2 separate regions of the Homo sapiens genome follow, and region 1 is linked to region 2. Evidence: fine-mapped expression QTL. A gene starts in region 2. The other region holds a variant in brackets. All regions are shown on one strand. Distances are from middle to middle. Region 1 overlaps TMED7-TICAM2 (TMED7-TICAM2 readthrough). Region 2 holds the start of TICAM2 (TIR domain containing adaptor molecule 2).

Region 1 (10,745 bases), 24 kb before region 2:
CAGCACAGTGGAATTAGGACGCATAGTTCCTGAGACTCTCTGTCATGAGTTGTGCATACTAGGCAAAGAAGACTAGAATTATGGCAACCTCACCATGAACTTGTTATGGTTTTCTCTTTGTACTACTGGCCTCTCCTAATTTCTCCACCATGAGAAAAGCAGACAGGTACATTGAGAAGCACAATTATGAAGCCTAAGACCCACAAGGCTTTGGAGCCAGACCACTGAATATTTCAATGACTCCATCCTCTACCAGCCTGTGATCTTGGGTATATTACATTTCCAGCATCTGTTTCTTGGCCCAGTATTGGACACTGTATGACTAACCTTGTAGGAATCTGGGGAACACTGGAGATAATGTAAGTTAAGTGCCAAACACAGTAGGTGATAAAAAATGAAACGTATTATTACAAGCATATATTTCTCTACCCATTGACAGTCTTCATCTTTTTTTAGTTCCTCAAATCATTGCACGTGTAGGAAACATCTACAGCACTTAACATGACTACAAGTGAATGCTAATTTAAAAAATAATTATGAACTTTTTCAAACATACAGGAGAGCATGGAAAATAATATACCATCACCAATGTAAGTACCCATTAAAAATACAGAGCTGTCTTGTACGTTTTAAAACTTTATATAAATGTTATCAAATTATCCATATTATTCTATAATTTACTTCTCCCACATATTACATTTTAGAAATTTACCCATATTCACATATGTAGGTTTCCTAGTTATTTTTAATGCCCTATAGTATTGATTTCATGAACCTGCCATAATGTATTCCTGCATCCTCCTACTGATGGACATTTAGATTGTTTCCCATTATTTACCTATTACAAAGAATGCTGCATAGGCATCCTTCTCACTCGTGCTTCTTTGGGTACCTGTGAGAGAGTTTCTTTGGGATACAAATCCAGAGGTAGAATTGCTAGATTCATAAGATATGCCCATCTTCAACATTACTAGTCATTGCTAAATCATGTTTCCAAATCACTGTAGCATTTTATTGTCATCTTTGCTCGAGAGTATTTTTTAGGTTCTTTATTGAGATATATTTTACATACCATAAAATTTACCCATTTCAAGTATACAACTCAACAGTTTTTAGTATATGTGCAGAGTTGTGCAACCAGCACTGCAATCTAATTTTAGAACATTTTAATGTGATAGCATTATTTATAAATACACATAAAATATACAGAAATCTGTAAAGCTTGTTATGTGTCCTGTCCAATATATACATGGAAAACCTCCGGAAGGAGCTAGTTTGTAGAGGTCCCCTACAAATAATAGAAAAAAACAATTTTCTTGATTTAAACCTGTAGTTTGAGTAGGTAGCTGAAAGCAACATTTCTAATTAGATTTGGAAACTGCTTAAATGCAGGTTCCTGTTACTTGCTAATAAAAGCATTTCTAATTATTCACCTCAGAGTGAAAATGACTCAGAACTCACTCTATCTGAAGAGAAATAGAAGTGTGTTAAACTAACTAAAGAAGTGATTTCCCCAGAACAATTCTTGCTCATGACAGAAAGGAAGGCAACTGTGAAGGAGTATAGATGTTGGAGTAAACAGTTGTGAGAGCAGGTTCATTGGCAAAGGAGAAGAGAGAAGAGCAATTGTCTTTCTTTTTTTCCACAAGTTAATTCGTTGAGCTTTTTTTTTTTTTTTTTTTTGAGACAGAGTCTCACTGTATCGCCTAGGCTGGAGTGCAGTGGCCAGATCTAGGCTCACTGCGACCCCTGCTGCCCAGGTTCAAGCAATTCTCCTGCCTCAGTCTCCTGAGTAGCTGGGATTACAAGCACCTGCCACCACGCCTGACTAATTTTTGTATTTTCAGTAGAGATGGGGTTTCACCGTCTTGGCCAGGCTGGTCTTGAACTACTGACCTCGTGATCCACCCACCTTGGCCTCCCAAAGTGCTGGGATTACAGGCATGAGCCACCACACCCAGCCTCATTGAGCTTTTAATCAAATAATTTTCATGCTCTGAGTTATTAATTAATGGCACTTTCAAGTATTACTTACCTCAATCCAAACTTAATATGTTAATTGACAAGAGTATTGCCACATATGACATATATATATATATATATATATATATATATATATATATATATATATATATATATAAGAAAGTTGTCCTTATCCAGCCGTTAAGTGTTCAAAATCTAATAAATTTTTCTACTTGGAATCTCATAAGAAACATCAGGTCCATGGACAACAACATCAGTTCTCTGGTTCATTCCTTCTGGTCATTGGCTTAAGGACATCAACTTCCAGATGCTGTGGTTTCATTTCATCAAGTGCCTGACAGCTTTCTGAAATTTCCTCCTTGCCCTTCAGACCATCCACAGGTGTGGAGGGTACGTCACTTTCTGTGACAGCTTAGCAGATGACCTAAGACCAGGCGGTGTAAGACTGAGAAGAGGAGGAAAGTCACAGAGGCAGCGCAGATTGCTCAGGGCAAACACACGGAATCCCACCTTACCAGCAATGCAGCCATGGCAACAGCTTCTCACTAGCCCTGGGGCCAGCCCCACCACACTCATGGATCAATGGACTTTCTCTACAGTTGGGAATAGCCTGACTCCACAGCATGGCATGTGGTTTCTTTACCTGCACTGAGGTTTTTTACCTGCAAAATGTACAGATAAAGGACCTGAAATCCTTTGCCTGCACTGAAATGATTCTCCTGAATTAGATACTAATATTGAGCCACTCTACACCCTTTGAATACTTGGGCCCCAACTCAGATTTCCTTTGCAACAAGACTGTGAAAACCACTTTGATCTCTTTTTTGCAGGGTCCTTTGCTGGGCAGACAGATGACTCAGTGAAATCTAGTCTATTTATTCGTTACTGGAGAGGAAGTGATTAAGCTTTCCAGGCTGGAACAACATCCACCATCAGGAACTGGGATTGGGCCTTAGGAATGAGCTGTTGCAAATGAGAGGGCCAAGGGAAGTTATTTCTGTTACTAGTGGTGTTACCTTCTATGCAGTGAAGTGGTTTTGACAACCAATGCATTAGGATCTGCAAAATTGAAGGATGAGGGACTGAAGCGGAAAACATCCCTGACTTGTGCTGGAAAGCGTTAACCCCAGCAAACAGCTTGTTGAATTCAAGGCAGAACTTAAGTTAGTCAGGAAAGAAAGGAGCAGAGTAGACTAGTGATACTCTTACTCCCTTCTCCACCCAACCCAAGGGGAATAGTATAACTAAACTCATACAGCCTATTCCCAAATGAGGCAAAATTATCTGGGAGTTGCTAAGCCCCAGAAAAGAGCTAAATTAAACGGATTACACCCTCTGCCCTCCATAATCAAATGAACACAAAGTTGATCCACCATTTTTAAGTGTAAGGAGCAACAAAACTCCACTGAAGGCATCCAGGTCTGAGCCATTCTTCCTCCTAACTGACTTCAAAGCTGGCACTCCTAGACTCCATTTTCCTGCTTTTCTAGTTTATGGCTCAACTTTCTACTTGTTAGAATCATGGCACCATGCTCTTGCATCCTTCATGCCACCAGCTTCCTCCGCACTCATACTCATCATTAACAGCTCACACATCTCTTGCTGATCAAGGGGGCTCCTCTGCTTTTCAGTGCCTGACTGGGGGCTGTACTGCACATGGGAACAAGGCCTGGCATCTTCCTTTGTCTTTGTTTAAAATCTATTCCCTACAAGTTGCGAGGTTTCCAAGGATAGGATTGTGGGTATGTAAAAATGCATATGTGTCCTGCCCGCCAACCCATGCTGCATATTGAATGTGTGTAGGCAACAAAAAATAGTTCTAGTAGCATAGATATGGTAGCTATATGTGAGGCACTAGCTCATTAAATCCTCAAAATGACCTTTCAGGGAGGTATTTATGATCTTTATTTTTAGATGAGGACATTAAAACTCAAAAAAATTAAGTGTCTTTTTAAGAACATCACTTACAGAGGACAGAGGTGGAATTCAAATCCAGGTAGTCTGACTCAGAAACGGTGTTGGAAGATGTTTGGATGCAGGGAGGCTAGGAGGTGTCCACTCAGGGTAGGGGTAGGGAGAATTTTGAAATAATGGAACCAGCTGGGAGTCAGATGGCTCTTTATCATTACTGGGTATCAACAATTTTCAATAATGCAGTGATGAATTATTTTTTCCATATGGGTGGACCACTCCTATCATCTTATTAGGCTGGACACTGTCATGTCTGTATACAGTGTCGGACACTGGAGCAGCCAGGCTACACCTTGGAAGGGAGCTCAACCGAAACACTGAGAATGGAAGAGCAAAAAGATGGAAAGAACCTGGGTTTGTTTTTTTACCTTTTCTTTTTTTTTTTAATTACAAGTTGAGCATCTCTAATATGAAAATCCAAAATCCAAAACACTTCTGGTCCCAAGCATTTTGGATAAGGGATATTCAACTTGTATTGTGGTAAAATATATATAACATAAAATCTATCATTTTAGCCATATTTAAGTGTACAATTCAGTGGTATTAAGTACATTTCGCAATGTTGTGTGTCATCACCATTACCCATTTCCAGAACGTTTTCAACAACCCCAAACAGAAACTCTGTACCCATTAAACAATAGCTCCATATTCCTCCCTGCCCTCAGCCCCTGGTAACCTCTATTCTTTCTGTCTCTGTGAATTTACCTTATATAAGTGGAATCCTATAATATTTGTCCTTTTGTATCTGGCTTATTTTACTTAGCATAATGTTTTCAAGGTTCACCCATGTTATGGTATGTATCAGAATTTCATTCCTTTTTAGAACTGAATAATATTTCAGTATATGACTGGGATTTTAATGACACATTTGAGCCCCTGTACCTTGGCGGACCTCTTGTTAAGTCGGATAATATTTTTTTCTTATGGTTTAGGCCACGTGGCGTGGGGTTTTCCTAACTGATACATGAGGCTCAACTCGGGTTCTCCCCTGTAAAGCTCCAGGGTGGGCAATAAGGCCCACAGAGTACTCAAAATGAAAGCTCCCCAGCATAGTGCAAAATTTCCCATATTTCCTGATATGTGTATGTACCTAGATATGTACATGTGTGTATGGGTGTGTGCACACGCACATATGTACACAACAAACATGACAAAGCCCACACCTTTACCTGTTTTCATCCTCAGTTTAGCTATTTTGTTACAATTGATAATTTCAACATATATAATAATTCAGCACTTAACATTTTTTTTTTTTTTTTTTTTTGAGACGGAGTCTCGCTCTGTCGCCCAGGCTGGAGTGCAGTGGCGGGATCTCGGCTCACTGCAAGCTCCGCCTCCCGGGTTCACGCCATTCTCCTGCCTCAGCCTCCCAAGTAGCTGGGACTACAGGCGCCCGCCACTACGCCCGGCTAATTTTTGTATTTTTAGTAGAGACGGGGTTTCACCGTTTTTAGCCGGGATGGTCTCGATCTCCTGACCTCGTGATCCGCCCGCCTCGGCCTCCCAAAGTGCTGGGATTACAGGCGTGAGCCACCGCGCCCGGCCAACATTTTTCTTTATCATAAAAAAAATATGGAACTCCAAATTGGGTGAGACATTGTGTCTGGTGCTCTATGAAGTACAAATCGATGCTTCATTTCAAAACACTCTTCCACAATCTTCATTGGAGTTGAAAATAAACAAGTTTAGTCAAGAGTAAAGAATAAAAACATTTATTTTAAAAATACCATTTAGCATCAATTGCCCCAAGTTTGGCAGGCATGAAGAGTGGGCAGTTCA[T/G]GTTTTATTAGTATATAAAATTGGCTTTACAGGAAGCATTATGGCAAAAAAATGAATACTTATTATGAAAACTGAAAAAGAGAAGTGAGTAGTAAGCTACTATCAGAACGTTAAGGCTAAGAAAATGTCACTATGCAATGAAAACCATCTCCTCCTCTAATAAGTACTAACAGAATAGGAGGCTTGACTTACTTGCATGCTCCTCATAGAACGTTTTGGTTCATGGCTATGAAGAGGTAACTGCAAAAAGATGTGTGCAGATCCCGGTACTGGTAGGGGATATACAAGTGGGGAATAAGAAAAAAGAAATTAAGCAAAATGTCTTTACTCAAGGATCTCTATAAAAATTTATTTTTAAGAAAGCCTGAGTAAGCATGTATATTTTTTTCCTGTGACTTTAAGTGTAATGACAGCATTAAAAATAAATTATGCTGTCAATATACAAAAAATATCTTTTCATTATAAGCATATATAAAGCCTTCTGCAACTATTACATATCACTTTATCGAATCCAAACTTTTTTGCTTGTTCCCTTTTGTGGTCCCTAGTTTTTCACATCCTCATAGAGGACAAAAGCCTTTAGAGATCCATCAATTCAACCCTTTCATTTCACAGATAAAGGAGGGTAAATAGTTTGCCCACAGTTACATTCATCCTCAGTGGCAGAAATTGGACTAGAACCAAGTCTCATGATCCCGAAGAGGGCTTTTCTCATTACATGACATGACCCATTCTCCACCCCATCCCTGATCTCAAGTGGACGATGCTCCCTCAATCTCAGATGGGCAGAAGGGCTGTGGAGGAAAGAAACAATCCTGTTTGGGGCCTCTCTGGCTTGTTAGGAGCATGGGGCTCTAGAATAGGAGGTAATAAAATACATCTCCTTCTATCCAAAGTCTTTATAAATAACCTATCACACACACACATGCACACAGTCAGGCTACTTTGAAGACCTAAATGAGAAATACTTCCTGAGAAGAGAATTGTGTGTGACGGAAACTTTTAAAGCTTCCATAAGAGAGGTTTTTGATTTAAAAAGTGAATATCTGGCCACTCACACAGTTATACGCCTTTTAGAAGCTCTGCAAATAAAGCCATAGTTACAAATGATGACTAATATGAAGAGATTTAAGCCCCAGGGGACGTCTGAACACCACTCCACGAAGTCCCTAACTACCACACTATCAAATGGGCTGTGAATCGGTGGTGGGAAATGCCTCCAAATATGCAGATTTCAGCAGAAAATACATTTGACTGGGTTCTTTTAAAAAGTTCCACCATTCTCACATCTATTTCTGATTTTATATGCATCAACGCTTAACATGCTAAATGTTCTATTCTGGCAATTCATATTTCTGGGTGATAGTACCCGAATGCTTATTGCAACATCCATGAGAGGTGCCTCAGGAGGAAGTGTGATCAGATCTCCTGGGGCCATTTTTTTTCTGTGTCCTTTGAGATCAAAATTCAGAGAATAAAAGTGTTGTCACATTTTTAAAAATGTCTGTCATACAAGTTTTTGTTCAAGGTTCAATACAAGGAATATGGATTGAGAATTCCTTTTTCATATCCATGAACTAGGAAAATTGTGAAAGAAAAGTCCTTGAAACTCTGACAATGTCAAGTTTACTGAAACATCAAAAAGTACCACAATTTTATAGGCTGTCCTGCAGAAATTTATCTTTCTTGTGCTCCATAGGTTTCTTTAAGGTGAAGACTCTCTTTTATTTAAACATTTCCTAGAAACTGCTTTCTCAAGTGAAGATTAATCATTTGGTTTACAAAACAAGAGCCAGCCACATGTTATATGTTTCATCTCAGGCAATAAATTGTCTTTGTACCATATTTCTTGTCTCTTTCCATATAGTTTGTTGTGTCTTATACACAGACTCCTGAAAAATTCTTTCTACTTGTGTAGGAAATCCACGACTTTCTTCCTCTAAGGCATTGATGGTTTGGAGGGCAAAGGGAGTCCTTTCTCGGGGAAGGGGATTGTTCAGGGGCCGCATGGGTATAACAGAGTTGTATTTATGCTGCCTGTTAACGGAGTTCATTAGGGACGTATAGAACTGGAAATTACACCAAGTATCTCTTAAAAAGTTTTCAGTCAGTAATAAGATTGTCCATGCAGACCCATTTACAGCATCATCTAAATTCTGTAAATGCTGTCTGCCACATGGCATCTCAGCAAAGATTATTCCGGGTTTGATACCAAAGTCATCTTGTAGCAGATTCTGGACTCTGAGGGCTTCATCTGTGTCATCTTCTGCATGCAATATCACAAATTTGAGGAACACCTCTTCTTCAGCTTCTTCTTCAAACATCTCTTCCACGCTCTGAGCTCCCTCCTGCTTTCCTGTTGGCCCCTCTGTTGTATTGCTGTGCTCAGCAACATTACACAAGGATAGATCTTCAGACTTCTTGGAATCTGACTCATGATATCCTGGACTTGTATCCACACTGTGCCTTTTACCCCAAGAGAGAGAAAGAGGGCAGGAATTTATTTTAGACTTCCCGATACCCATTATAAATATCCAAGGCAGAAGAGGAAAACTTTATGTATTTCTCAGCATTTCTTTTCAATCTAAAAGAAGTAACAAAACAGAAGAATATTATAAATTTAATCAAAACATTAAAAATGGAAACTTTCATTCAAACTGAAAAGCTCAAAAAGATTATAATAGACAGATCCAAATACATAAACGACAAACAGATAATTGGGAAGCTAAACTACTAATCTTTTGTGAGCTTTACAAGGGCTATCACAGGCAGCGAAGGGAACATTAAATAAAGGGTCCAGTTTAATATAATAGGAGACATTCGGAAAATGTAAATGGTGTTATATTAGCACTACAAACCTCCAGATTGAAATAAATTACGTTGGTATTTTTGTGATAGGTACCATACCGCTTTATCTTTTCATGCAGTTTAAATCTAATTTCTCCATTATCAAATTACCATGTAGACTAGAAACAGGAAAATATAAAGAAACTGAATATTCAATTAAGCATAAATATATTTCTGTATCAAGCACAAACAAAATAGAACACAAATATCCTAACAATGACTGGCAGCATCTCTACTGACAGCATAAACAGAAGATCTGAAATGTCAAGTGAAATGATGTCCAGGATTTACTGGTTCGGAGCTTTTTTTTGTTTGTCTGGAGTCAGGCATTGTGGTGATGGTGAATCTAATGGAGAATAAATTATAATAAGAGTGTGTGAAAAGTAAGAAATATCTTTTTCCAACGAATCCTGTAACTACTGAAGAAAATATATTTATTCACCTAAGGAAAAATTAACATCTCAGTTTGGAAATGAACTCTAGAAACAAAGACTTGAGACTTTCTCCAGTGAAATCAACAAAGAATGATTATAGTCTAGATTCATTCTTGTTTTTGTTGTTATTTATTTATTCATTTATTTATTTATTTATTTTTTGAGACAAGGTCTGGCTCTGTTGCCCAGGATGGAGTGCAGTGGTGTGATCTCAACTCACTGCAATCTCTGCCTCTCAGGCTCAAGCCATACTCCCACCTCAGCTTCTGGAGTAGCTGGGACTACAGGTACATGCCACACACCTGGCTAATTTTTTTTTTTTTTGGTTTTTTTTTTTTTTTGGTAGAGATGGGGTTTCATATGTTGCCCAGGCTGGTCTCGAACTCCTGGGCTCAAGCAATCCTCCCGCCTCAGCCTCTCAAAGCTCTGGGATTACAGGTATGAGCTACCACGTCTGGCCTAGACTCATTCTTTTATTTAAAAAAATTCTAAATTCAGAGTGGAAGAACTAGATCAACTGTGAAAGAAAAGTATACCATGTGAATCTAATTTAAATAAGTCTTCAGAAAACATTGGCAATATTCCTAATAAAATCCCCCAGACAGGCAGTTTCAAGGGGAATTCTTTTATTAAAAGACAGAACATTTAGAATATATAAATACAGGTTTCATACTTTCAAATGTGAGCCACAGACTATATTCCAGAGCATTTCTACTTGTTCTTTATGGGCAAAGGCCATACCTCAAGAAGAAATTATAACATTCATAACAACATAAGTAACATGGCTACATATGCCTACATAATTCAGGTTTAGAAGAAACTGTTCAACAAAAGTGGTGAAAACTGTCATGGGAACAAAAACCAAGGAAAAAAACAGAGAATTTCATTCAATGTATGTGAGTAAAAATGTTTGCAGCTGCCTCTGACTAGTGAGGAAACTGCTGACCACTCCGTCATTCACTCTGTCTGTACTTTAGGTTCTCGCTCCACGGTATATTGTGCTAGTTACCAAGAGGTATTCTAAGGCATAATAACTCTAAAATGTGACATATATCCATCCAAAATAATAAAACCAAATTAATTTGGACTCTCTTCATTGATTAGGATTCACTGCTGACTTTTGTTACTGCATCGTAAAAAAAAAGGGTTTTGCTATGCAAAGTTGCAGAAAGAAGTTTCCCCTGAATGAGAAAACAATAGTTAAACCATCCAGAGGCATCTATTTACTGTCAATTAAAATGATCTACACTTATCACTGAATTCAACACCATTATCTTAGTCACTAGCCGGTAAGACAAGTGCTTTGAAGGAATATAACAGCTATTTATAAAGAATATGAAAAACTTCTAGGGTAAGATAGTGTGTCAAGGCAGATCACAAAATCTTTTAAAATAAAAACAAAGAATTACAACTTCGACTTATTTTTCTTAAATACCAGTTAGCAAAAAAGAGCAAAAGACTTCAGAAATCTATGATGTGTTCCAACTTCCAAGCAGTGTCACCCACCTAATCAGACCGAGAGAAAAAAACTAGTGGCAATGTCTATAAAACTTTACCATCATCTTCTAATCTGGAGGGAGGGAGTAAGGAGACTGCCAAGGGAACAAGCTGTGGAAAGTTGTGCTGTTCCCACCACCACTGTGACTCAGACATGGAGAGATGGTCAGGATTCCTTAGTGCACTGTGGTTCCCAGGGCTGGGAGGAAGTGAGAGGACACGACTGTGCTTCAC
Region 2 (10,745 bases):
TCATTTTTACTTTGAAAATCTTTGTCTGCCTTTACTTCCCTGAGTACACACAATTTACTATGGCACACATATTCCCACTGCAACGCCCATTTCTGAATAAATATTACTTTCTTTTAGAGAGCCTCTATCTCCCTCTGTTATTTAGGTTGACAGACCTTTTTGTCAGTTTCTCAAACTGGCTTAGCTTTCTCTTGTCATGCAATCTATGGAGATATTTTCTGGCATATTTGAAGTATGAGTTATATGACTATATTTTATTATCATAAGAGATCTTGTACAATCATAAGCTAGTCAAAATTCCATTGGAGGTAAAAATAAAAATATCCAAAAACTGGGGAATGATAATATTAACTATGTCACATTATTCATATGATCGAATCCTATTAAACCATTAAAAATGTTTATGAATGTTATGAACAATTTTAATGACATGAGAAAAACGCTTCTCATGACACGAAAATGAAATGTAATTAAAGAAAAGGAACTGACTGTAAAATAGTATACAGAATATGATCTCAGCTTTGTTAAACAAAATGCAGAGAAAATAGATTAGAAAGAAGTACTGTCGTCTCTTGGTATACTTAAGGGTAGGGAAGACTGATTCCAGGGGTTCCAGGACCCCTGCATATACCAAAATCCAAGAATACTCAAGTCCCACAGTCAGCCTGCAGAGCCTGCGTATACAAAAAGTCAGCCCTCCGTATGTGTGGGTTTTGCATCCTGGAATACCGCATTTTTGATCCATGTTTTGTTGGAGAAAATCCACATATGAGGGGACCCACATAATACAAACCCATGTTGTTCATGGGCCAAGTGAATACCAAAAAGGTAACATTGATCCTCTGTGAATGGTATATGCATAAGAATATATAAATGTGTATATATATGTATTCCTTCATATATATGTGAAGAACTCACGTGTTCTTCACATGTACACATATATACACATACATGTTCACCTTTTGAACAATGATCACACAGTCTGAAAAAATAGTTTTTTAGTAAATAAAAATTCATTTTCTAGGCTTTATATTTTTATAAATATCAATTAGGTCAATAATTGTCAACAATTATGTCAATTATGTTGATTTGATTTCCATCTAAATAGTATCTTCCTTATATATATCTTTTCCAACACCTTTGGTAAGTGTCTTCCTTACATGCTCTATCTCTACGTTCCAAATGAGTTTAGCCTATCTCCAGGTTTAGCTCTATTTCATCTGTTTTTTATTTATATGCAAATATTCCAAGAGCATGGGTTTGCTAACTCTAAACCAAACAGGGCTTCTCCAACACTCTTCTTAAGTACCAAAGGACAGAACATTCATCTTCATCGTACCTAAAACAGGTCCTTGAGCAAGTAAATGTTTAAAAAAATGCTTCTATCCGATCTTCACCTGGGCACTGCTTTTTCATCTTGTGGACCCTATCTCTTCACTCAGTTGCTAGGAAGCTCCACGTTAATGAGTGCTCTGGCCAACAGACAGAAGCTTATGGCAAGTGTTTTGATACTATTAATAACTTCACTCCTAGTTTCTGCTTAACCCCCCTACTCTTCTCTCTGTTCGATATTCCAAATCTACTTATTATTTAATTTAATTTAATCTTATATTGGAAATATTTATTAAAGTATCTTAAATCCTAATTCTGAAATAAGAAGGAATTTTCTTCTTTTCTTTTACAAGAAGGGGTGATAGTACATACGCTACTGATAACAGAACCAGTTCCTTGAGATTAAAATGAGAAATAAGGATTATAAATTAAACAATCTTTTAGTTGCTACACCTCTTCATAAAGATGAAAATATTGTTTTTCATTTCTACATAGTCCTCAAAAGAGAACTGGAGCCAGATGCAGTGGTATGTGCCTCTAGGCCCAGCTATTTGGGAGGTTGAGGTGGGAAAATTGCTTGAGCCTGTGAGTTTAAGACCAGCCTGGGCAACATAGCAAGACCTTGTCTCAAAAAAAAAAAAAAAAAAGTTCAATTTATATAATATCTTATAAAATCTTCACAACTCTGACATTGGCTTAGTCACTGCAGAACTTAGAAACTTGTATATTATTCTCTGAACAAGTGTCTTTATTTTTCTTCTTCCCATAAACTACCTGCTGCTGGTACCATTCAAAGAGTCTCCAAATGTTAGATTATTGCTTCCTATTTCCTATTGCCCCTATTGGTGGGGGGAGGGGGGCAAAGTAACTGCCCCCCACCAAATATTATTACATATTCTTTTTAGTGAACTGGATATTTTTCTTCCATTTTCTGTATCTAAAAATGAAAACTGATGGTAAAGGGCAAATCTCCAAATCAGGAAGAGATTTTATAAAAACATAGAACTTAAAGGCAAACTGTCCATCTTATCAAAATTAGGCTCAAAAGAAAAATGGTTGTGCATTTTTAATATTAGGGAACTCAAGCAACCAACAATGTTTTAAAGGTTCCATAAGCTTCATGGAATACTAGAGAGTAGCATTCAGTATTTAATAGCAACCTACCGCACAGGCCCAGCAGCAAAAGAGATCTTGCTGCAATAGCACAGTAACCCCTGAGGCAGCATGCTAACAGAGAAGTGAGGGAGTACAGTGTGCAATGGTCTAGCAGACACCAGCTGCAGGCAAAGGCAACAGCAGCACAATCAGTGTTACTACAGTGGAGTGGATGAGAGGGAAGTCAGGAGATGAGTTCAGAGAACTAGTCAGGGACTAGATCACACAGGGCTTTAAAGCCATTGTAAGCCTGTTTTTCTTTTCTTTTTTTTTTCTTTCTTTTTTTTTGTGATTCTGATAAGAAGCCACCAGAAGGTTTTGAAGGGAAATGAAAGTTCTGAGTATGTATGACAAAAATCACTGCTATTTGGAAAAGACTGTAGAGGAGCAAGGGCAGAGGCAGAGACTTCTCAATCATGTAGGTAGGAGAGGACTGTGGCTTAGCTTAGAGAGGGAGAGAGAGGTGGGCAGATCTGGGTAGAGTCAACAGATTTTGTTGGATGCTTGGATGCGGAGTCTGACCTAAAAAGAGAAGTCAAGAGTAAATTCCTAGAATTCCGGCCTACTTGAATGGCAGTAACTGAGGCTGTTTATTGAGATAAGGGAGGGAGCTGAGGGGAAACAGAGGGAGAACTTGGTGAATCTGGCATCAGTAGTTCTATCTGTCCATACTAAATTTAAATGCCTATCAGACTTCCAAGTGGAGATGCTGAGTAAACAGCTGGACATACACATACATCTGGAGCTCAGAAGCGAACTAAAGCTAGGAATAAAATTTTGGAAGTCATCAGCTGATAGATATTATTTATAGCCAAGGAATATGGCTTGGGATACAAATTGTCCTGGGGGAAAGTATGGCTAGAAAAATATGGCCAAGAAATGAACTCTGTGGCATACTAAGATTTAGTGGTGGGGAAGCCTGGAGACACAATGAAGCAGAATGAAATGCAGAATATGGTGACCTGGAAGCCAAGTGAAGAAGAAAGAATATTAGTGAAGAACATTAGTGAAGAAAAAAGAATATTGAGGAGGGAGTGATCAAATGTTACTGAGGGGTCAGGAAAGATGAGAACTGTGCACAGACACTGGATTTCACAAGACAGTCATTGGCAACATCAGGACCATGCAGGGGGTAATGGGGACAAAAAGCCTCAGATGAGAGGGGGTAGGAAGAAACAGGGAAAATGAAAATGGAGACTTAGATTAAATCTTTCAAAGAGGATTTTTGTTTGTTATAAAAAGAAGCAAAGTAGGGGAGCGGGACCTAGAATGGGATGTGTGGTCTAGGGGGGATTAAAGACAGAAGATTTAACAGCAGATATTTGTTAAATGAATACATTTTAAGAATAGCATAAGGAACAAATGACTCAACACAGATGCCCATGATTCAACAGTGTAAACATGGTTTATACTTCAAGTTCCATACGGTAAGGCGTACATGTCACATTTACTTTGCTTCAAATGTAGGTGTCAATATTCTATACCTGCTTATCTATTTTCTGATTTGAATGAGATATAAAGTGGAGTTGCTTAACTCCATTTATAACCATCCTACTACTTCAAAATATTAAAATGTAAGGATTGATGGGCTGATAGGTGCAGCAAACCACCATGGCACACGTTTATCTATGTAACAAACCTGCAAGTCCTGCACATGTATCCCAGAACATAAAATTAAATTAAACAATAAAAAAATAGAAATACAGATTCTGGAAATCAAGCTTACCAAATTAAACCTTCAGAGGTGGGGGGATGCATTTTAAACAAAAGTCCCAAATGCGTCTTACCATCAGGCTTGTTTGAAAAACACTAATCTAAGGAATACTAAACACTTGGAGAAGGACAAGTTCTTCTCCTGTGTAGACGTGCAATGTGGGTTCAGGGGATGACACTTCAACTCTATATAATGGTGTATTTTTACCTCCAGATCATATAGCCTTTCCCACCCTTGCTTTTCAAAATTAAAAGGATAAATTAAAAAATAATAATAAATATGAGAATATTTTAAAATACTTTCTTTAAGAAGTTTACTACCGTGGAAAGCTGGAGAGGTCCTAATACACTGAAAACTAGCTCACAGCTGCCAGTCAAATTATTTTTATCCAAATTAGCTTTGCACAAAAAGCCAAGTAGGAAAACCCATGCCAAAACCTCCAGCACTGGCTCTGTGTGCCTGGCAGGGGCTCATGCAGAGCCTTTAGAGCATTTAAGACTCTGGGCTATTTGCTTATGGTTCTGAGGTGTCTTTTCGAAAATGGGTTTTCTAGTCAAAATGAAACAAAAAGGCAGACAGCTGTGTGGATTTTCCCTTCAGAGTAAGCCAAGTGACGGAAAGGCCTGCCCGCCCCGCTGGGGACAACAGCGCCAGCACCCGCGCCGTCGGGTCGGGTAGGCTGGGGAGGTAGCGCAGGCGGCCTGGCCCCCAGACCACCCCGCGCCCCTGGCGGCCTGGCCCCAGCCCACCCCGCGCCCCCGGCGGCGGCCCCCGCCCTAGCGCCCGGTACTTGCCTGCAGGCGAGCGCCACCACAGTCAGCCCGCGGCTTTTCTGTCTTCCTTTCTGGCCCAGCGAGAGCGCCCAGGGGGTGGGCGTCTTGCCCCGGGCGTCGAGAGTTTGGGGCCGTCCCGTACGCGGCGCGCCGCAACCCAGTCCCCGCGACCACAGCAGCCTGCTCCCCACCGCGCTTGCAGAGCCCGGACGCGCGTGAGTCGGGGGCCCGCAGAGGCCTCACCCTTGGAGGTCGCCGCTTGTCAGGCCTGACTGCTGTTGGCGCCCACCCCGCCGCCCCCGAGGGGCCGCTCGAGGCCGGACTGCTGCTTTGCCGTGGCAGGCCCCACCCGGGACGTGGCGCTGCGGGCCGGGGCGGTCCAGCTGTGAGTCAGGGGTTAATGTGGCGGGATAACTCTCTGCAGAGGGAAGGAGCTCGCAAAGAAGGGTGGAGGAGGGGAAACCGCAATGGGGAACTGTCACCGAGGCTAGTGGACTCTCCCTGCGCTTTTTTTTTTTTTTTTTTTTTTGGCATGTACCCCAAAAGCCAGAGGTCGAGGCCCAGAAAAATCTGGAAAGGAATTCCACCGTGTTTGCTCCTTACAGACCAGACAAACCGTAGATCTTTCAGAGGTACAGCGACTCTCCTGGTTCCCTAAGATAGTCTCGACTTTTCCTTTCCCTTTGCGGCCCTCTCACTTGACTACTGCAGCCAACCATACCCCTGATTAGGGGGTGCAGCACATCAGCCTCTGCCCCCAAAAACTACCCTGCGAAAGATCCTTTTTCTCAGGTTCGTTCTCCACAACCGAACAGATTGGAACTCCACTGAATAAGAGAGAACAAAAAAGCAATTAGTTAAATGAAGCGTAAAGAAGCCTTATAAAGCCCCATTGCTGCCTCAGGCACCCAATCTAGTCATAACCTAAGAGGTCCAGTTCAGAAATCTCCCCTCCCCTTTTAATTCTCAGGCAATCCCTACTCCCTGCCAAAGGAGAACCCAGTTACTGAACATCGGATGAGACCATGGATAGTAAATTGGGAGTGAAGGTCCATACCTGGGTCTCAGAAGCACAGTACAGGTAAAGCTAAGAGTTATTTCCTCCTTCTCTTTCCCCATCCAACAACAGGATGCCTTACTGAAGGTAGGCACTTCAGGTAGTAATTACTTAGTGAAATGCCGCCAATGTAGTCAGAAATACCGTATTATGTACCGTGTCAACACAATTCATTATTCACGGAGTTGATTCTCCAACCACTGCACCTCCCAACAATTCTACCTGAACTCTTTGGGTAAGCAGTGGCCTCCTAAATCCAACTGATACTTTTGTTGCCCTCATTTTTCCTGGGAGTCTCTTTGGCGATTGACAAAGTCGACCATTGTTTCCCAACACTCTGTTTCCTTGATGTTGACAACCCCACTTTGCCTTTATGCTCATCCTGCTTGTTAAAATTCTTTCAGGCCTGTTGGGAGGCCGAGGCGGGTGAATCACGAGGTCAGGAGATCGAGACCATCCTGGCTAACACGGTGAAACCCCGTCTCTACTAAAAAATACAAAAAATTAGCCGGGAGTGGTGGCAGCTGCCTGTAGTCCCAGCTACTTGGGAGGGTGAGGCAGGAGAATGGCTTGAACCCGGGAGGCGGAGCTTGCAGTGAGCCGAGATCGCGCCACTGCACTCCAGCCTGGGCCACAGAGTGAGACTCCGTCTCAAAAAAAAAAAAAAAAAAAAAAAATTCTTCTTTCAGTTTCCTCTGCCTGTTCCTCTTTCTCTGGCAACCCTTCAAAATCAGAGCTTTTCACATTTTCCCACTGAAATACCACCAATGACAGATTCCATAAACACGTACTTCCCTATTCATCACTTAGGTTGCATACATAAAAGAGCCTGAAGTCACTAGTGTCATGGGCAAATTTACTTGAACTGTTCCATCTTCTTGTAAATTGCTCCAAATTTTGCATTGTTCTTCATAATACAGTCACATGTACTAAAAAAAATCTTAAATTGGTTACAAGTTTAATTGCTTAACATTTTCTCTCCAAATGTTCAAGAAAATGCATCAATCACTTACGCCACATATGTTTAGAATATATTCTATGTGCTAGACATTAGGGATATTGTGCGAACAGGAGACACAGTCCTAGTTCTCATGGAGATTTTATAGTCTAATCTGGGAGACAGACAGATATGTAAAGAAGTGAGACAATTTCAGATCCGTGCATTGCTAATGGGGACAGCGAATCTTCCTAGTGGGCAATTTCTAGCTACATACCTGGTTATTCACATTCAAGAAAGGAGGGGACGACATGACAAACTGATAAATATACTGACTTACAGGCAGTGTCTAATGGATTGTCCAGCTTTTAGGTTCTTGGAAAGAACAAAATGGAAAATTTGTAAAAGATCTGTCCGTGAGACTTACAGATAACCCTCTTGGAGTGGTGAGGGCATGTGAAGATATTCATATCCCCCATAAGTGCCTAACAGGATGCATCAGGTGGAGAAGATTTTCAATAATAAGCGGAACAAGATGAATTGTCTGGTAGATGTCAGTCTTTTTCTCCAGCCAACCCAGGGCTTGGTTAATGGGCCCATGTACCAAGTGGCTATCAAAGCAGTGACAGAGGTTCAATAGTATGGTCTTCTCCTTACCTACATTATTTGGCTACTATCATTGCCGAATGCCCAACCTGGCAACAACGTGGAGTGTGACTACATTTCCAAGGCTGGGTTCCTAATATGGCATTACTGTCAATGAGACTTGCTGGCAACCCGGTAACATGATGGTTACATTGGGCAATTTCCATAAGAAATAGGTAGCACTTTGTCTTCACAAAGATAATTCACATTCAAGGTATAAATCTGCATTCTCTGCCTGCAGTGTTTCCACTGGCACTAATATTCTTGACATTTCTGAAGGTTTTATCCATTGCATAGGAATCCCAAAAACATTTCTTCCAACCAGGTACACAGTTTATGGCAATGGAAGTGAATTCAATGGTTTTAACACATGCTTATCTCCTAAAGTAACTAGCTTGATAGAACAGCTGAGTGGCAAAATGAGAGCTCGGTTACAGAGATATCTGGGAGGCAACATCATGAAAAGGTAGGGTGGTGTCCTATAGAATGTGGTACATTAATTTAATAAGCAGTCAATATATGGAGCTGTCTCCCCACTATCAGGATGCACAGGTCTCAGAGCCAAAGGGTAGAAGGAGTGTTTCTGTTCAATAGTATACCTAAGAATCTACGTGAATAATTTTTGCTTCCCATTCCCAAAATGTTGGGCTTGGTGGGTTTAGAAATTCTAGAGTCCAAGAGTAGAACACTTCCTTCAGGAAAAATAATCATGTTTTGATGATTTAGGAGCCGAGACTGGCCCTGGCCTTTTGAGGTTCCTCATGCCATTAAAGTAACAGAAAAGCAGCTCAATGGACTGGCCAGGGTAGCTAATTCCAGTTATCAGAGGAAAACTGTGTTTCTGTTTTACAATGGAAACAAGAAGGCTATATAGGCTATATATGGAAACGAGGAAATTCACTGGAATGCCTCTTAGTGCTAACAGTCCTAGTCAGTGGAAAACTGCAGCAACCCAGTAAAGACAGGCCTATCAACGGCTCAATTCTGTAGAAATGAAGGTTTAGGTCACTTCATTAGACAAAGAATCCCATCTAGTCAAAATCCTGGAGGAAGGTAAGAAGAAGGATTACTAAGCTTGATTATGGTACTTTATTCCCCCAGAAATAAAACCAAAAGATGGTTTACTAGGACGTTCAAAATCAATAAACTTCTAGCCAGATAAGTCAAGAAAAAAGAGAGCAGATGCAAATTACCAATATTAGAAATGAGAGAGGGACATGACATTCCAGTTATTAAAAGGTTACTAAGGAAAGATTATGAACAACTTTATGCCAGCAAATTCAACAATTTATATGAAATGGAAAAAATCCTTAAAAGCCAAACAGTCAAGATGAAACAGATTATTTTAAAAGCCCTAAATCTATCAAAGAAATTAAGGTGTAGTGAAAAATGTTCCGAAAAAGAAAACTTCATGTCCAGGTGACTTCAATGGTGAACTCTACCAAAACATTTAAGGAAGAAATGATACCAATCCTACACATACTCTTCAAAAAAATTCAAAAGGAGGGAATACTTCTGAAATCATTCTATTAAGCCAGCATTAGTATCATACTAATCAGACAAAAGACATTACAAAAACAGAAAACTAAAGACCAACATCGCTCATGGATATAGATGTAAGATTCTAAACAAAATTTGAACAAATCAATGATGGTTGAGAATTTTCCAGAACTGATGTATCAACCCACAGATCTAAGATGCCAAACAAAGCCTAAGTGGGAAAATACAATAAAATCCTCACGTATATACAACACAATGAAACTCAAAAAAAAAAAATTATAATTACAAAGAGAAAATCGTGAAAGCAGCCAGAGGAAAAAAAAATGGATTAGTCTAAATGGAGCAAAAGACTGACAGGTGACTTCTTCCCAGTAACAGTGGAAGTCAGAATACAAGGGAAAGTTATCTTTACCTTTCCAGATAACCATCCATTTCAAGGGAGAAAAAAAAAGTCCTTCAAAAAGAAGGCAAAATAACGACATTTCAAAAAACAAGAGCAAAGTAAATGTGCCACCAGGTGACCTGCACTAAAGTAAATTCTAAACATATACTCAGGCAAAAGAAAAATTACTCCAGATGGAAGCTCAAAGACACAGCAAGGAATGGAGAGTAAGAAAGGTGGCAAATTTGTGGGTAAATCTAAGTCAATATTAACTATATAAAACAACAGTAATAACTTACATTTAAAGAGATACAACATATGTGACAACCACATATATAAGCTGGGAGGAAAGTAAATGGGATTAAAGTGTTCTAAGGCTACTGCACTGCGCAGAAGTCTGGGCGAGTTTAGGCGTTGATAAGTCAGAGATGCATAATGAAATTTCTAGAACAACCATGAACAGAAATATATACAACATCCCATCTGATAGGTAGAAGAAAAAAAGGAGTAACAAAAACAAAACTATCAAAAAAAAAGTAGAAAAAAAGGAACATAGAACAGATAGGACACATACTAATAGTAACAACAATATGATATAAACGAGACACCTCTAAAAACTAAATATACACAAAGACTGAAAGTAAAACTGTGGAAAATGATATACGACACAAGTGCTAGCCAAACGAAAGCTGGTATAGCTACATTAATATCAAATAAAATTAATTTTAAGGCAAAATTTATTAGTGGAAATAAAGATAATTTTGTAATGATAAAGCTTCTTTCAATTAACCTGGAAAATATAACAATTATACATTTGTATCCCAATACAAAATAGAAAAAGAGAGAAATTGAAAGAATCACACAAACACATCTAAAATCATGCTAGCTACATTTTAACACAATTCTCTTAGTAATCAAGAGATATATACCAAAAACAAAAAAATCATCACTAAGGATACTGAAGACTTGAAAATTAATGAACATGACTAAAATGATTAATGAACATAAATAACTGTAGAACTCTTTTCAAGCATCCTAAAATTTATAAAAACCAGCCACTTATTATGTCATAAAGCAACTGTTAACACATTTCAAAGAATTTAAATCATATAGAGAATATATCATCTGATCACAATTCAATTATGTTAAAAATCAACAATAAAGGAAAACTTAAATATTCATGTTTGGAAATTATAGTTCCAAATAGTATCTATGGATCAAAGTAGTAATGATAATGAAATAAAAAACTT

What was found. PIP is the estimated chance that this variant, and not a neighbour inherited with it, causes the effect.
Region 1: its variant is fine-mapped to the expression of TICAM2 in whole blood (TOPMed, PIP above 0.99). The same link has a PIP of 0.9 or more in blood mononuclear cells and lung.

What each region holds. Positions count from the first base shown.
Region 1 is chr5:115,572,999-115,583,743 of GRCh38, forward strand. It overlaps TMED7-TICAM2 (TMED7-TICAM2 readthrough), which reads right to left. Exons shown (of 4, transcript NM_001164469.4): 4 at 5,498-8,317. The coding sequence ends at 8,317. It overlaps TICAM2 (TIR domain containing adaptor molecule 2), which reads right to left. Exons shown (of 2, transcript NM_021649.7): 2 at 5,498-8,317. The coding sequence starts at 8,258. The coding sequence ends at 7,551. Among named protein-coding and RNA genes, the nearest start is that of TICAM2-AS1, 24 kb to the right of the region's middle. RefSeq lists enhancers at 2,308-2,357, 2,388-2,457. The variant T/G (reference allele first, on the strand shown) is at 5,734.
Region 2 is chr5:115,597,102-115,607,846 of GRCh38, forward strand. TICAM2 (TIR domain containing adaptor molecule 2) reads right to left here and starts at 5,378. Exons shown (of 2, transcript NM_021649.7): 1 at 4,996-5,378. The region is part of intron 3 of TMED7-TICAM2 (TMED7-TICAM2 readthrough); the gene reads right to left. TICAM2-AS1 (TICAM2 antisense RNA 1) reads left to right here and starts at 5,054. Exons shown (of 3, transcript NR_109875.1): 1 at 5,054-5,359; 2 at 5,945-6,055. RefSeq lists enhancers at 4,700-4,779, 4,728-5,250 and a silencer at 4,870-5,369.